Linked DNA regions of Homo sapiens: region 1 is linked to region 2. The links come from fine-mapping of genetic effects on gene expression. A gene starts in region 2. The other region holds a variant in brackets. All regions are shown on one strand. Distances are from middle to middle.

What was found.
Region 1: its variant is fine-mapped to the expression of KTI12 in whole blood (TOPMed, PIP above 0.99).

Annotation. Positions count from the first base shown.
Region 1 is chr1:52,050,294-52,058,602 of GRCh38, reverse strand. It overlaps TXNDC12 (thioredoxin domain containing 12), which reads left to right and starts at 3,412. Exons shown (of 7, transcript NM_015913.4): 1 at 3,412-3,603. The coding sequence starts at 3,507. BTF3L4 (basic transcription factor 3 like 4) reads right to left here and starts at 2,308. Exons shown (of 6, transcript NM_152265.5): 1 at 2,224-2,308. TXNDC12-AS1 (TXNDC12 antisense RNA 1) reads right to left here and starts at 7,685. Exons shown (of 3, transcript NR_126385.1): 1 at 7,638-7,685; 2 at 6,754-6,819; 3 at 5,920-6,196. RefSeq lists enhancers at 1,393-2,104, 2,105-2,818 and silencers at 1,884-2,123, 2,984-3,388. The variant TGTG/G (reference allele first, on the strand shown) is at 3,414.
Region 2 is chr1:52,030,503-52,038,834 of GRCh38, reverse strand. KTI12 (KTI12 chromatin associated homolog) reads left to right here and starts at 5,025. Exons shown (of 1, transcript NM_138417.3): 1 at 5,025-6,732. The coding sequence starts at 5,074. The coding sequence ends at 6,138. The region is part of intron 2 of TXNDC12 (thioredoxin domain containing 12); the gene reads left to right. RefSeq lists an enhancer at 5,019-5,318.

The sequences.
Region 1 (8,309 bases), 20 kb before region 2:
CAAATTAAAAGTCTTGTTTTACTTGTTCTGCAGATCAACAAATCATTACTGAGATGTGAGGGAGGGAATAAGGGACTAGGTTGTTATCAAATCTTCTTTGGCCAATTCTCTAAACCCTGTATAGTCATCATTCACATGAAAAAAATACTGTTTGCTTCATTTGAGAGATTAAAAAAAGCAGCATCAAAGACTATATAATTACTAACCATTTTGTACTTTGACACTATCCTTAGGCAATAACCTATATATCTATCTCTTCTTTAAGGCTAATGTCCAGATCCCAAATAATATTTAGAATTTATGATTCTTCACTCTGCTCAGCGCTGTATCACAATGCTGAAGCAGCTAAAAACACTTTTATAGGAGGAAGTGTGTTTAGAGTCCAAAACAAGAAGTCTTAAATGTGTGCCAATCTTAGCTCTGCCATAGACTTAAATTTGATGACTTAAATCCCAATTCCTATGCTCAAATATCCACAGAAAAGGACCAACATTCACTTTTCTCAAAGGAATGTGGCCATGAGAGTGTAGTGAACTAACAAAGAGCCAAAGGAATTTATTGCAAAAAAAAAGGGGCTAAGGAAAAACATTAGACCTAGATACTTGGTAAACCCTTTGGGATTCTTCTGCATTTTGAAGTAACAATTCCCAAGAGAACAGACAGAGGTTGGGATGCCAAGACAAAGTCTTGACTTGTTTGAAATAAAAGCAAGAACAAAATTAACTCTTCAAATCAAGGTATAGATGAAAGAACAGATTCCATTCCAGGTGGTCAGGACAACAGAATTGAGAAATTTTGTTCCTAAGGAGTATCTCAGAGAAAAATGATTTTAGGGAGACTGAGAGCTCAAGGCAGTAGGGGAGGAACAAGAGTAGTCTTTTGTTTCTTGGCAAGTTGTGGTGTGTGGAATTCAAGTAGGAAAGAGGACTGGACTCAGTCTATGCGATGTCAAGCTCAGAATCTGGAGTAGACCTCCAAGATCACCTGGTTTAATTCTCTATTCTCAATCAACCTCTACTTTATTGCACCCATCATTCCTATCTGTGATGTCATCTCAACATCTGCTAGCACCAGCAAAGTATAAATTACAAACGAAACAGTTCCCTCCCTCCCATCTTAATAGATTAGGAAATAAGGGCCCAGAAGGGAGAAGTCCCTTCCTAGGCCCAAAAGGGAGAAGTAACTTCCTAAAGCCACATGATTAATGAGTTCTTCCTTGGGGATTCCAGGATCTTTTAGCACTGTTCTCAAGGACTCAAGAAAGGGTGTAAACAGGTTTATATTTATTAAGTGCCTAAGTTAGAAGCATTGTGGTAGGCACTTTCACATACATCATGTTTACACAGAGATAAAAATAATTGCAACCTTGAGTCCTGACTTTTTATTATGTAGGGTTTCTCTAAGACAAGCACAGGCTTTGGAATCAGAAAGACCAAGGTTCTACCAGTTGGGAAAGGTATTTTTCTTCTCTGAACTTGTATTCCTCCTGCATTTGGAAAGGTATAACACCACGTACTTCACAGGGTTGTTTTGAGGGTTAAAACATTATCAACCACAGGGAATGGTTCACAGAAGATACACAGTTACTGGTAACTATTGTTACCACTCCCGAGGGGACAACTATGGTAAACTGCAAGAATGTGGGAACGGAAGTTGAAACCGCCATTCACTAGCTGTGCAACACTGAGCCTGTCGGTCAGCAGGCAGTGGGAGGGGGGTTATAAAGATGGGCAAGGGACGCCGACTTGTAAACAAACACTGCCATTACAAGGTGAAGAGTGCTGTAACTGAGTTCGGTTCCCTGGACTCAAGGGCGGGAAGTGGTAACCTCAGCTTCCCTATCTGTAGACTGGGAGCATCAAATGAGATGACAACAGAGAGCCTGTATAAAGCTCAAAGCACACAACACTGCTGTTGTGAGCAAGGAGTAATGGAACAGAGGAGGGGCGTCCACCTGCCTCCTGGGACAGGGTCTGGGCGGCAACAGGGCGGGCCCGCTCGCTCCCACAGGGGGCGGTGGTGCTGGGGACCTTCCCACAGGTGCCGACCCCCAGCTGCGCCGCCGGTAACCGACAGGCCAAGCCAGCCGCCTCCGCCCCCGCTCGCCGCACCACGGCGGAAGTGGCAGCCTGAGCGGTTGGCGGGTGTCGGAAGGGGAGGGCGGGGGGAGACCGTGCGCAGCGGCCTATGGCCGTGAAGTGGCGGGACCGCCGGGGGTCTCACCTGAAGCAGGGAGGGTCCTCCAACACCAGCACGCGGCAAGAGAAAGATGGCTGCCTCAGCCGAGACAGAGAAAGACGACGGCGGCGGCGGCGGCGGCGGGAGCAGATCCACGTGATACAGCCGACCCCGCCTCTCCCTCTCCGGGGCAGCCTATCCCGGGAGCGAACATCTGAACTCCAACGCCCCGCCTGCTTTGCGCATCCCTCTTAGTGCTAGTGGCGGCAGGTGCAGGTGGCCGCGCGGCATCCTGGGGCTTGCAGTCTCCCGAGCGTTCTGTTGTGTCCCTGCCTACAATTTTAGGGAACCTAATAAAAGGGTGGTCGGTATGTTTTTATTTGGGTGTGTACTTTTGTTAGGTCGCTTTTTCGCTATGCATTAAGTACGGACTTTAGGACTCAACTAGTACCAGGAAGAAAAAGACCGGACATTTTCACCTGTTTGTTATACAGCGAAGGGGAAAAATTGGGAAGAAATCCTCAAGCTACAAGAAAAATAACCAGAAGCTTTACACTTTAGCCTGCAGTGACTTATATCCTGGTGTCCTAAGTCCACCTAAGTCAGTTTTGCAATAAGAGGTCCCAAGTTTGGTTTTCTTGGAGCTTGCATCAGTTGGTTGCATCATCCCTGAGTAGAAGATTTGCGGTTGCAAGGAAAAATAAGGTACAGAGCTTCTCCAGCGGGAAAGTGCATGTCTGCACGGCACGAGCCCACGCACCGCAGAACAGGCTTGCCAGGTCTCCTCAGAGACCCTCGCAGGAACCTAACAATGAAATCCAGTTGTCCAGTCTTGATTTGTGGAGGGGTAAGGAGAATCCGAGGCCAGTGGGCAATCCGCCCACTGTTGGGAGCGACTGACCTCACGAATCAATAATTTGCTTTTGACTAGGAAGTGCAGCGGTTCTTGGGGGGAGGGGCTGGACTGGGTGGCGGACGCGAGGAGCAACGGTTCTCCCGAACCTCTCCCCCGCCCCTACTATCTTGGCCTACATTTTCCCGCTCCGTCCCGGGACCTGGACACCCAGAATCCACGAAAAGCAACTCGCGCTCGAGAACAGCTCTCGTACCCTTCTACGTGATCTGCACCTTTAAGCTCACTCCATCCCAAACCGGACCCCGGAGGCACCACCCACATCCGTCTAACATCACTTCCTTCAGAGTTTGAAAAAAAAAAATCTGGGAAGTAGAGGTGT[TGTG/G]CTGAGCGGCGCTCGGCGAACTGTGTGGACCGTCTGCTGGGACTCCGGCCCTGCGTCCGCTCAGCCCCGTGGCCCCGCGCACCTACTGCCATGGAGACGCGGCCTCGTCTCGGGGCCACCTGTTTGCTGGGCTTCAGTTTCCTGCTCCTCGTCATCTCTTCTGATGGACATAATGGGCTTGGAAAGGGTCAGACCGCGTTCTTATCTTCTCTTTACTGATCTTTACTATACTGATCCCAGTATAATCTCTTCTTGCCCTAGCACCGTTCCCCTCCCATTCTAACTCTTAGGCCACTCCAGATTTCTTTTTATCTTCCCCAACCGCTCCTGGAGTTTGAAGATTTCTTGGGGTAGAGAGTAGCGGGTCTGGGGAATGGAGAAGTTGTACTTGAGGCCTCTCTAAATTATTGGATTGGGGGGAAGGAATGGCCCGTAAATTAAGGAAAGCATGTTAAGAGCCCAGCATAGTGCCTAGCACTTGGGAGGTCCTGAGGAACGGTCACCTTCCCACCTGGGAGAAATAGAGCCGTTGGGGACCTGCATATGCAGAGGACCCTGTTCTGGGTCTGAAGATTTCTCTCGTTACTTCTTCCGCGAAGAGCTAGGTTACTGCCACTTGCTTGCCTTTGGGAAACAGCACCTGCATCCCAGGTAGCTGTATCTAGTGCATAAGAAGAGCCAAGCGAATGGTAGAAGGTCTGCTGTTTAAGGGTCCCCAACAATTGTCCTTGCTGTGGTTCAGCGAAGTTTTTTTGTAAGTGAGCGATCAGTGGTTATGAATGGAGGTTAGGAGGTGTGGCCCCCTACTCCATCCATTACCTACATCTCCATTCTAAGTTTTAACACCTCTCTCCTCATCAGCCCTTACTTAGTTGAAAGTTGGACTGACAGTCTGTGAACTCAGAGTTTATGCTTTTCTAAGTAGATGAATTGTAGCATGGATCCCAACCCCTCTTCCTTTTTTTTTTTTCACTGACCTTACTGTATGGAATGATTCTGCTGCAATCCTTCTGTTTTTGTTTTCTCTTATCCTCTCTATTTTCACATCTATTGGTGAGTAATAAGATTGGGTGGGCATTCATTTTGCCTGAATGCAATCATTCCTTCATTCCGTAAATAATTTTTGATCACCTCCTATATTTCAGGCACTGTCCTAGGCACTAGGGATATAGCTGTAAACAGGACAGACAAGGTTCCTACTCTGGTGGAGCTTATATTCATGTCAGAGAGACAGAGTAGACTCATGAACAAATTAATAAGACAGTTTCAACTAGGAACAAGTGCTGGGAAAACAATAAGACTGTGATGGAATAGGAAGTAGAAAGGCTGGGGAGGTTGGTGGAGCTGGCATCACTTGAATTATGAAGGTCAGGAGAAGCTTTTTGGAGAAGGTGATATGTGGGTTTCCATCTCAGTGATGAAACTGCATGACAAATCCTGTTAGGCCAGAATGTTTTAAATACTGACAATCCCATTTTAAAACAGACTACCGTTTTTTTTTGTTGTTGTTTTGTTTTGTTTTTTAGACAGAGTCTCACACTGTTGCTCGGGCTGGAGTCCAGTGGCATGATCTTGGCTCACTGCAACCTCCGCCTCCTGGGTTCAAGCGATTCTCCTGCCTTAGCCTCCCGAGTAGCTGGGATTACAGGTGCCTGCCACCACGTCTGGCTAATTTTTTGTATTTTTAGTAGAGACGGGGTTTCACTATGTTGGCAAGGCTGGTCTCAAACTCCTGACCTCATGATCTGCCCGCCTCGGCCTCCCAAAGTGCTGGGATTACAGGCATGAGCCACTGCGCCCAGCCAGCTACTGTATATTTAAAGTTGTAAGTACTGAGAGTAACAGAAGAGTAGAGTGTTGGGTACGTGGGTTTAGATCTGAGTTTTTTCTTTGCTGTTTTTTCTGTTTGTTTGTTTGCTTTTGTTTTTGAGACGGAGTCTCACTCTGCCAGGCTGGAGTGGAGTGGTGCAATCTCGGCTTACTGCAACTTCTGCCTCCCGGGTTCAAATGATTCTCCTGCCTCAGCCTCCCAAGTAGCTGGGACTACAGGCATGTGCCACTATGCCCAGCTAATTTTTTTTTTTTTTGTATTTTTTTGTATTTTTAGTAGAGATGGAGTTTCACCATGTTGGCCAGGCTGATCTCAAACTCCTGACCTCAGGTAATCCTCCCTCCTTGGCCTCCCAAAGTATTGGGATTATAGGCGGGAGCCACTGCGCCAGGCCTAGATCTGAGTTTTAATTTGTTCTGCCACTCACTAGCTGAGTAGCCTTGGGCAAGTTTCTTAACTCTCAAAGCCTCCGTTCCTCATCTGCAAAATGGGCATCATAACTACCTCAGACACTCAACAAATAATTTGCTCTGTTCAAGTTACTGTGTTAGGTGTAGGTAATACCTTGGAATCAGGTATTTTGTATTTTTATTCCTTGTTAGATATTAAGCTTTGTGTGGTTGTTCCAGTTACCATTGTTGTGTAATAAATCACTCCAAAATTTAGTGGGCATGAAGAAATCATTTTATTATGCTCACAATTGTGTGAGTAAGGAATTCAAACAAGGCACACTGGGAAAGGCTTGTCCCTGTTCTATGATGACTGGGGCCTTGGCTAAGCTGGTTACCTCTCCATGTGATCTTTCCGCATGGGCTCCTATGGGTTTCCTCACAGTAGCTTTATGGGAGGCTGGATTCCAAGAGTGCGTGCCATAAGAGAACAAGGTGGAAATGCATGGCATTTTTGTCACCTAGCCTTACAAGGCACATAGCATCACTTCCACAGTACCCTGTAGGGGCAGATTCAAGGGAATGGAATATTAGGACCCCCACCCTCACCCCCAATGGGAGGTATGTTGAGGTCACATTGTAAGAAGGGCATATCTGCCACAGTGAACCAGGACTATTTCTGTCTTGTTCATGCTCAGGAATATTTGTTGAAAGAGGAAATGAATGATAAACATGATAATTGTGATTCCTGTCCTTTTTCAGCTTGCAGTCTGGTAAGATACCAAGACAAGTAAGCAGACAGTTACATGGCAGCATGATATGTGCTTTAAGCAGAGAAATACCAGGTAGCTGCAGGAGCACATAGAAGGGCAGCTTAGGGCAGTGGGGCTGGGTTGGGAGGATTCAATCAAAAAACAAAAGGCACTTAATATTGTGTCGGACACTTAGAAAATATTTAATAAACATTAACCAGTATTATTTCCCCCATGGAAATAATAATAATAATCCCTAAAAGGAATTAATACTATTTCAAACTTTTGTTTTATGTATCTCTTGGGTATGGATTCTTGGGAAGTAGATTATACCCCACTTACCCTACCTTCCAAAAAAGTGCTACCTGAGGCAATGGTTGCTGAAAGTCTTAATGAGATGGATTTCTTCCCAGATGTTTCCGGACGATGGCCTGGTGGTTTACAGAGAGGAGAGACTGAATGATCTCTACTGTTTTCATTAAGAAGAAGCAGCACAGTGATGTGGACTTAGCACTAAATAGAAATTAGAAGGCCCAGGCTGGGCACGGTGGCTCATGCCTGTTATCCCAGCACTTTGGGAGGCTGAGGCAGGTCAATCACCTGAGGTCAGGAGTTCAAGACCAGCCTGGCCAACATGGCGAAACCCCATCTCTACTAAAAAAAATACAAAAATTAGCCAGGCGTGGTGGCACACGCCTGTAATCCTAGCTACTCGGGAGGCTGAGGCAGGAGAATTGCTTGAACCTGGGAGGCGGAGGTTGCAGTGAGCCAAGATAGTGCCACTGCACTCCAGCCTGGGCAACAGAGTGATACTCTGTCTCAAAAAAAATAAATAAATAAATTAGGAGGCCTGGATTGTAATCCTGATCAGGCCATTTAGTTCTGGTCCTACGTGACAACCAATTAATCAATGAGAAAGTTGTACTAGAAGTACTTCCTAAGATCTCTTCCAGCTCTAACGTTCTATAGAGTTCCAAAATAATTACATTGTTCTCCATGGACTAAAAATTTGGAGTACATCACCCATGGGGAGAAGTAGTGACCAATATTTACTGTACATTTACTATCCTCCAGGTGCTGTTGTGTGCATTTTTCATGTATTGACTAAGCCTCATAATAACCCTATGAGATGGACAATGTTTTTATCATTATTCCCACTTAACAGATGAAAAAACCTCAAATGAGGCAAAGGAGTCCAGTGGACTAGCTGGAATACAAATCCCAGAGCCAGTGCCCTTAACCAGCATACCATTCCAGTCTCTCAGTGCAGAAACTCCTCTAAAGTTTAAAGGAGAAACTAGAAAGCTGTCATTGGGAGTGGTTCTTGTGCTCTTCTGCCTGAAACAAAAATGGATAACTTTGTCAAGTCTCTGGAATAAAAATTTGGCACTAACACATATGAAGTGTGTTTACCTCCCACACAGTGTTCTACTCACATTCACAACAGCCTATGGGATACATGTTTTTGTTAGCCATAGTTTGCATTTATGAAAATGGTAAGTGGCTGAACAAGAATTCTAATGCAGGTCTGTTTGACTGAGACAATCAGTATTTAGCCACTATGTTCTATGTCTCAGGTACAGTGTTCCCTGTTTCAGAGGCTTGGCTGCCAGCTCTGATGCTTGACCTTTTGTTATTTAGGTTTCATCAGCTAGGAGGGGGTGGATAATACTTTTCAGATGTCTTTAGCTTACATTCATTAAAACAATTTTTGGATGAAGGGATTGAAAATTCTGATTGAATGCTGTGTTTAGAAATGGTTGCTTTTCTTTTTTAAAAAATTAATGTTATAGGGTAAGAGTTGCTGATGTGGGAGACTTTACTTTGCAGATAACTGGCATAAATTAAGTGGCTATACAGGTGACACTTTAGGAAATTGGACTGCCTTCAGATGTTCCATGTTGGCACAGGTGGGAGTGTT
Region 2 (8,332 bases):
TGCACTTTTTGCCAAATGCCTTTTTATGTGCATAATATGTAGCTTTTACATGGGTACTATAAAAAGGCATACCTATTGACTCTAATATGATTTGAGAAAAAGCAAAGTCATTATATGGCAACTTAAAGCAAAAAGAAGGTGAAGGATCTAAAGCTGGAGTATTTAATGACAACAAATGATGGTTTGCTGATTTTAGAAAGAGGTTTGGCTTAAAAAATGTCAAGACAGGCTGGGCGCAGTGTTGCCCGTAATCCCAGCACTTTGGCAGTCCAAGGCGGGTGGATCATTTGAGGTCAAGAGTTTATGACCAGCCTGGCCAACATGGTGAAACCCCGTCTCTACAAAAAATACAAAAACTAGCTAGGTGGTAGTGGTCCATGCCTATAATCCCAGCTACTTGGGAGGCTGAGGCAGGAGAATCGCTTGAGCCTGGGAGGCGGAGGTTGCATGAGCCGAGATCCCCCCACTGCACTCCAGCCTGGGTGACAGAGTGAGACCCTGTCTCAAAAAAAAAAAAAACAAGATACAGGAGAAGCAGCTTATGCTGACCAAGAGGCAGCAGATGAATTCTCAGACACCGTTAAGAAAATCATTGAAGAGAAAGGATATCTGCCTGAACAGGTGTTTAATGCAGATTAAGGTACCCTACTCTGGAAAAAAAAAGCCACAAAGGACATTAATAGTAAGGAAGACCAACCTGGGCAACATGGGAAACTCTGTCTCTACAAAAAGTACAAAAATTAGCTGGGTGTGGTGGCACACACCTGTTGTTCCTGCTACTCAGGAGTCTGAGGTGGGAGGATTGCTTGAGCCTGGAAGATTGAGGCTGCAGTTAGCCATGAGTGCACCACTGAACTGTAGCCTGGGCAACAGAATAAGACCCTATTTCAGTTTTTAAAAAGGAAAAAAAAAAATAGGAAGAGAAGCAAGTACCAACATTGAAGGCAAGAAGAGACAGGCTAACTCTACTCTTTTGTGCAAAAAAACCCAGCACTTTGGGAGGCAGAGGTGGGACGATTACCAGAGCCCAGGAGTTTGAGTCAAGTTTGTCATCAGAACTGCCCTTGTCTATAAAGCTGTTAACCTCCAGCCTCGAAGAGCAAAGATAAACACCAGCTGCCAGTGTTTAGGTTGTGCAATAAGAAGGCTTAGACAACAAGAACCCTTTTTCTGGATTGGTTCCATCAATGCTTTGTCCCTGAAGTCAGGAAGTACCTTGCCAGTAAGAGACTACCTTTTAAAGTTCTTTTGATGTTGGACAATACTCTGGCCACCCAGAGCCCCATGAGTTCAGCACCAAAGGCAAATTAAAAAGTCTATTTGCGGCTGGGCCCAGTGGCTCATGCCTGTAATCCCAGCACTTGGGAGGCCGAGGTCGGGGGATCACCTGAAGTTGGGAGTTCCAGACCAGCCTGACCAACACGGAGAAACCCAGTCTCTACTAAAAATACAAAATTCGCCGGGCGTGGTGGCACATGCCTGTAATCCCAGCTAATCAGGAGGCTGAGGCAGGAGAATTGCTTGAACCTGGGAGGTGGAGGTTGCAGTGAGCTGAGATCGTGCCATTGCATTCCAGCCTAGGCAACAAGAGTGAAATTCTGTCTCAAAAAAAAAAAAAAAAAAAAAAGGTGGTCTATTTGCCTCCAAACACAATATTTAAATCAGCTACTACATCAGGGGGTGATAAGGACCTTTAAGGTTCATTACACACAGTACTCTCTAGAAAACAGATTGTCAAAGCTATGGAAGAGAACTGCAATAAAGAGAACATCATGAAAGTTTAGGAGGATTATATCGTTGAAGATGCCATTGTCGTTATAGAAATAGCTGTGAAGACCATCAAGCCTGAAACAATAAATTCCTGCTGGATAAAACTGTGTCCAGATGTACACAAGACTTCACAGGGTTTATGACAGATAATCAAAATCATGAAAGAGATTGTGGATATGGCAAAAAAAGGTGAGGGGTAAAGGGTTTTAAGATATGATCTTGGATAAATTCAAGAGCTAATAGACACCAAACCAGAGGAATGAACAGAAGATAACTTGATGGAGATGAGTGCCAGATGATGAGGAAAAACACGTAGAAGAGGCAGTGCCAGAAAACAGATCTGGCAGAAGGTTCTAATTATTTAGAGCTGCTTTTGACTTATTTTACAACATGGACCCTTCTAAGATATGTGCCCTGAAACTAAAGCAAAGAAAAAAGATTGGTATTGTATAGAAACATTTTTAGAGAAATGAAAAAGCAACAAAATCAGACAGAAATTATATTTCCATAAAGTTACACCAAGTGTGCCTGCCTGTTCTACCTCCCCTTCCACCCTCTTCTGCCTCTGCCATCCTGAGACAGCAAGACCAACCTCTCCTCTTCCTCTTCCTCCTCCTCCTCAGCCTACTCAGTGTGAAGACAAGGATGAAGACCTTTATGAGTATCCATTTCCACTTAATGAATACTAAATATATTTTTGCTTCTTTATGATTTTCTTTTTCTTCTTTTTTGCCCCCCTGCTTCCTGGAAAGATTTTCTTAATAACATTTTCTTTTCTCTAGTTTACTTTATTGTAAGAATACAATATATAATATTACATTCAAAATATGTGTTAACTGAATATATTATTAGTAAGGCTTCCAGTCAACAGTAGGCTATTAATAGTTAAGTTTTAGGGAGTCAAAAGGTATATGCTGATTTTTGATGGTGTCAGGGGTCAGTGCCCCTCATCCTGGGGTTGTTCAAGGGTCAGCTGTACTAAGTGCTACTGTGCATTAGGCATTAAATTATGCAAATCAACTCATTTAACTCTCACAACAACTTTTTGAGATTGGTATTATTGTTATCTTAATTTTAGAGATGAAAAAAGTAAGGCACCGTTTTTTCTAAGTTTACTAAAATAACTTGCCCAAGAGCACACAGCTAGCAAGTGGCAGACCCAAGCACTCTGGCTTCAGAGCCTGCTCTTTAAACCTGTATACCATACTGCCTGCTAGAATCAAGTTGAATAGTCTGTAAAGTCTCAAGTAGGTTTAGTTTATGCACAGACAATTCAGTGCATAAGGAGGAGGAAAAGGCAGGGCAGGGGAGGGAAAGCTAAGCACTGGTCTGTGTTTACTTTTTTTTTGTTTGAGACAGAGTTTCGCTCTTATTGCCCAGGCTGGAGTGCAGTGGTGCGATCTAGGCTCACTGCAACCTCCGCATCCCGGGTTCAAGCAATTCTCCTGCCTCAGCCTCCTCAGTAATGGGATTACAGGCACACGCTACCCCACCCGACTAATTTTTTAAAAAGTATTTTTAGTAGAGACAGGGTTTCACCATGTTGGCCAGACTGGTCTCGAGCTCCTGACCTCAGGTGATCTACCCTCTGCCTCCCAAAGTGCTGGGATTACAGGCGCGAGCCACCATGCCGGGCCTGTGTTTACATTTATTTAACCCTCACAACAACCTACAGATTGGTAAACCTGTGAAATAGCAGTTGTTATTTTATAGAAGGGGAAATTGAAGTACAGAAAAGTTACATAATTTGCCAGTAGTTACAACACTAGTAAGTGGAGGAGCCAAGACTTGAATGTTTTTTACTATACTGTACAAGAGAGATACAAAGACCCCAGTATATGTGCATCTACAATATACACACATGCACAGGCACACTCACATTTCTGCACCTACCATCCTATAGTGCTTGCTGTTTATACAAGAGATCCAACAGTTTCATGGCTCTGGGTCTCAAACCTACAATAATAGAGTTGCCAGATTGAGCAAATAAAAATAACGGATGGCCAGGCACAGTGGCTCATGCCTTTAACCCCAGCACTTTGGGAAGCCAAGGCCAGTGGATCACCTGGGGTCAGGAGTTTGAGACCAGCCTGGCCAACATAGTGAAACCCCGTCTCTACTAAAAATACAAAAATTAGCCAGATATGGTGGCGCACACCCATAGTCCCAGCTACTTGGGAGGCTGAGACAGGAGAATCGCTTGAACTCAGGAGGTGGAGGTTGCAGGGAGCTGAGATCATACCACTGTGGTCCAGGCTGGGTGACAGAGCGAGGCTCCATCTCAAAAAATAATAATAATAAAATAAAATAAAGGATGCAGGCCAGGCACCTTGGCTCACACACCTGTATTCCCAGTACTTTGGGAGGCAGAGGTGGCACAATTACTTGAGCCCAGGAGTTTGAGACCAGCCTTAGCAACATACAACCTCATCTCTAAAAAAGAAAAAATAAATAATAATAATAAATTAAAGATGCCCAGTTAAATTTGAAGTTTAGATAAGCACCAAATAATTTTAAATATGTCTATGCAATATTTGGGACACACTTAAGCTTAAAAATGTTTTTGGTGTTTATCTGAAATTCAAATGTAACTGGGCATCCTGTATTTTATCTGGCAACCCTACTAAGGAGAAAAATTCCTATTTGTCTTTCAAGTTCTAAGTCAAATGACTATTTCTACATAAAGTCTTCAGTGATTTCTCTGGGTAGTTTGTTTTTCCCTTCTGTTCTTTTATAACCTCACCTGCATCTATCCATTATAGTATTTATTACTCTGATTGTAGGCGCCTGATCCTTCCCATTCAGACCTTTTATCTTTTGTGGGGAAAGCGTTTTATGTTCATCTCTGAATTCCCAACCTTGGAGATGTTGAATGATTGAAATGGTAATTGAATAAACATTTACTGAGAGCCAGTAGGTTTAAGAGGAGGAATGAAGGAGAACCAGCATTTATTAATTGCCTTCTATATGCTAAATATAGTGCTGATTGCTTACAATATTTAATGCCCCTTAGGCCTTATTAATAAAATGGACGGGCAGTCTTTCGCTGCAGGAAGATCACATTCTCCTGAGGCCTATAACATTTGGCATAAATAACTGATGCCATTATAGTCTCTGTATCTCCTTTCTGAGAAAGCTGAACCTGGGCCTAGCTGGCGTAGAACTCCTGTTTCCATAGAAACAAGAGGGTCTGTAAAAGTCAAGGGAGACAGGAAGAGCAGTTTGCACTTCCGGCTTACGTCGGAGACGCGTACAACCCGGAAGTTGGCGCAGCGCGGTTGCCAATGGTCGCTCCCTGAGAGGATGCCGCTCGTGGTGTTTTGCGGGCTGCCGTACAGCGGCAAGAGCCGGCGTGCTGAAGAGTTGCGCGTGGCGCTGGCTGCCGAGGGCCGCGCGGTGTACGTGGTGGACGACGCAGCTGTCCTGGGCGCAGAGGACCCAGCGGTGTACGGCGATTCTGCCCGTGAGAAGGCATTGCGTGGAGCTCTGCGAGCCTCCGTGGAACGGCGCCTGAGTCGCCACGACGTGGTCATCCTGGACTCGCTTAACTACATCAAAGGTTTCCGTTACGAGCTCTACTGCCTGGCACGGGCGGCGCGCACCCCGCTCTGCCTGGTCTACTGCGTACGGCCCGGCGGCCCGATCGCGGGACCTCAGGTGGCGGGCGCGAACGAGAACCCTGGCCGGAACGTCAGTGTGAGTTGGCGGCCACGCGCTGAGGAGGACGGGAGAGCCCAGGCGGCGGGCAGCAGCGTCCTCAGGGAACTGCATACTGCGGACTCTGTAGTAAATGGAAGTGCCCAGGCCGACGTACCCAAGGAACTGGAGCGAGAAGAATCCGGGGCTGCGGAGTCTCCAGCTCTTGTGACTCCGGATTCAGAGAAATCTGCAAAGCATGGGTCCGGTGCCTTTTACTCTCCCGAACTCCTGGAGGCCCTAACGCTGCGCTTTGAGGCTCCCGATTCTCGGAATCGCTGGGACCGGCCTTTATTCACTTTGGTGGGCCTAGAGGAGCCGTTGCCCCTGGCGGGGATCCGCTCTGCCCTGTTTGAGAACCGGGCCCCACCACCCCATCAGTCTACGCAGTCCCAGCCCCTCGCCTCCGGCAGCTTTCTGCACCAGTTGGACCAGGTCACGAGTCAAGTACTGGCCGGATTGATGGAAGCGCAGAAGAGCGCTGTCCCCGGGGACTTGCTCACGCTTCCTGGTACCACAGAGCACTTGCGGTTTACCCGGCCCTTGACCATGGCAGAACTGAGTCGCCTTCGTCGCCAGTTTATTTCGTACACTAAAATGCATCCCAACAATGAGAACTTGCCGCAACTGGCCAACATGTTTCTTCAGTATTTGAGCCAGAGCCTGCACTGACCAGAGGAGGTAGGGGGGAAGCCATGGCTTCTGATCTCCACTCCACTTTATTTCTCTGGGAAAAATAGGCTGCAGGTCTCCAGAGCATATCGATGCAGTACTGTACTAGAGCTGTTGTGACTGATTCACTCAAACTTTCCTGCATACCCCTGTGCCAGGCCTTGGGTTTACAGCATAAGTTCAGACTAAAGAGAATGGAGAACTATTGTGGTGCAACCTGGCAAATCCCTCAGAGGACAGAGCTAAGGTGGACAGGGATTACCTAGATTGGATCCTACTTGGGCTATCACAGAGCATTGACCATTGGCTTCCCTCATCTGAGGCGTGGGAGAGCAGACTGGATAGATGAGAATTGTTTTAAAACAATTGTGAACAGAAACTGAAGATGGTACAGTTCTACATCTGCACCTGCCCTTTTTTCATACCACAAAAGTATTTTTTGAGTACTGTACTGACTTTTTGCTAGTTTCTATTCTGGGACCGAGTTCACAGATAAATCCATTGGTTTGTATCCTTGAGAAACTTTGTTTTTGTGGAAGTAAGAAAGTTATCTACTAGATTATTTCCTCTAATAAAATCTTTTAAAATAGTCTACTGGAATCTCTTTCACTTAATGTTCCCTGTGTAACTTCATGTAACATTTTAGGTATACTTGTCATTGTTCTGCCTTTAAGTGAAGTAGTATTTTGATAGTTCTGAGAGAGTAGATGTTTTGAGCTACTCTACAGTAATTATATTATGACAATTTCCGTAACTGTTTTGCTTCATTCTGCATTTCAAGGCAAATATCATTGTAAGCTTGTCTTTCATTCTTCATTGATTTCATTGAACAAATGGTAGGTACCTACTTTAACAGTGGCTGTGATTTTCAAAGACCAATTAGATACAGTGTTTTTGCTCTTGAGATATGTGGTGAGAAGCCGGGTGTGGTGGCTCATACTTGTAATCCCAGCACTTTGGGAGTCCAAAATCGAGGTCAGGAGTTCGAGACCAGCCTGGCCAACGTGGCAAAACCTCGTCTCTATTAACAGTACAAAAATTAGTTGGGCGTGATGGTGTGCCTGTAATCCCAGCTACTCTGGAGGCTGAGGCACGAGAATCGCTTGAACCTGGGAGGTGGAGGTTGCAGTGAGCTGAGATCGCACCACTGCACTCCAGCCTGGGCAGCAGTGAAACTGGGTCTTGAAAAACAAACAAAAAGAGATATGTGGTGAGAAATACAAGTAAAAGATAGAATTAGGCTGGGTGCGGTGGCTCATGCCTGTAACCCCAGCACTTCAGGAGCCCAAGGCGGGTGGATCACAAGGTCAGGTGTTCAAGACCAGCCTGACCAACATGGTGAAACCCCATCTCTACTAAAAATACAAAAATTAGCCGGGCGTGGTGGCACGTGCCTGTAATCCCAGCTACTCAGGAGGCTGAGGCAGGAGAATCGCTTGAACCCGGGAGGCGGAGGTTGCAGTGAGCCGAGATCGCGCCACTGCACTCCAGCCTAGGTGACAGAAGGAGACTCCATCTCAAAAAAAAAAAAAAAAAGATAGGATGAAATGGGCTGGTGGTCAGAGGATGATGACAAAAGACAAAATGCTTTGGAAACCTGGTGAAGAGGACTAACTAGCTGTTGGGGGAGGTGGTTTTGGAAAGGTTTTAAGAGGAGTTAACATTTGAACCATCACTGTAGAATAAAGTCAGTAAAGGGCCAAATGGTAAATGTTTTAGGCTTTGTGGACCATCAAATGCTGTTGCTACTTATAGATGGTAAGTAAACAAATAAGCATGAATGTATTTTAATAAAACTACACTGAAATGTGAATTACAATTAATTTTAACATATCACAAAGGAGTCTTTAGATTTGCTTTGCAAACATTGAAAAATGTAAAAATATACAACAAAATATTTGCATATCATGGGCCCTACGGAAGCAGACGGTGGGCTGGATTTGGCCTGCAGACCCTAGTTTGCCAACCCCTGCTCTAGAAGGATAAACAGATGTTTGCCAGGGAGAAAAGAGAAAGCAAGACATTCGAAAACATGCATGCTCTGAAACTATGGAGCTGTTAAAAGAGAGGGTAGATGGGCTGCCTTGGTTGATGGTATATTCCTTGCTCATCAGGTAATCTATACTACCTTTTGTTTCTGATAAACAGGATTCATGTGTGAAATGGAAGTCTGGATGAGGCAAACTCAAAAGGC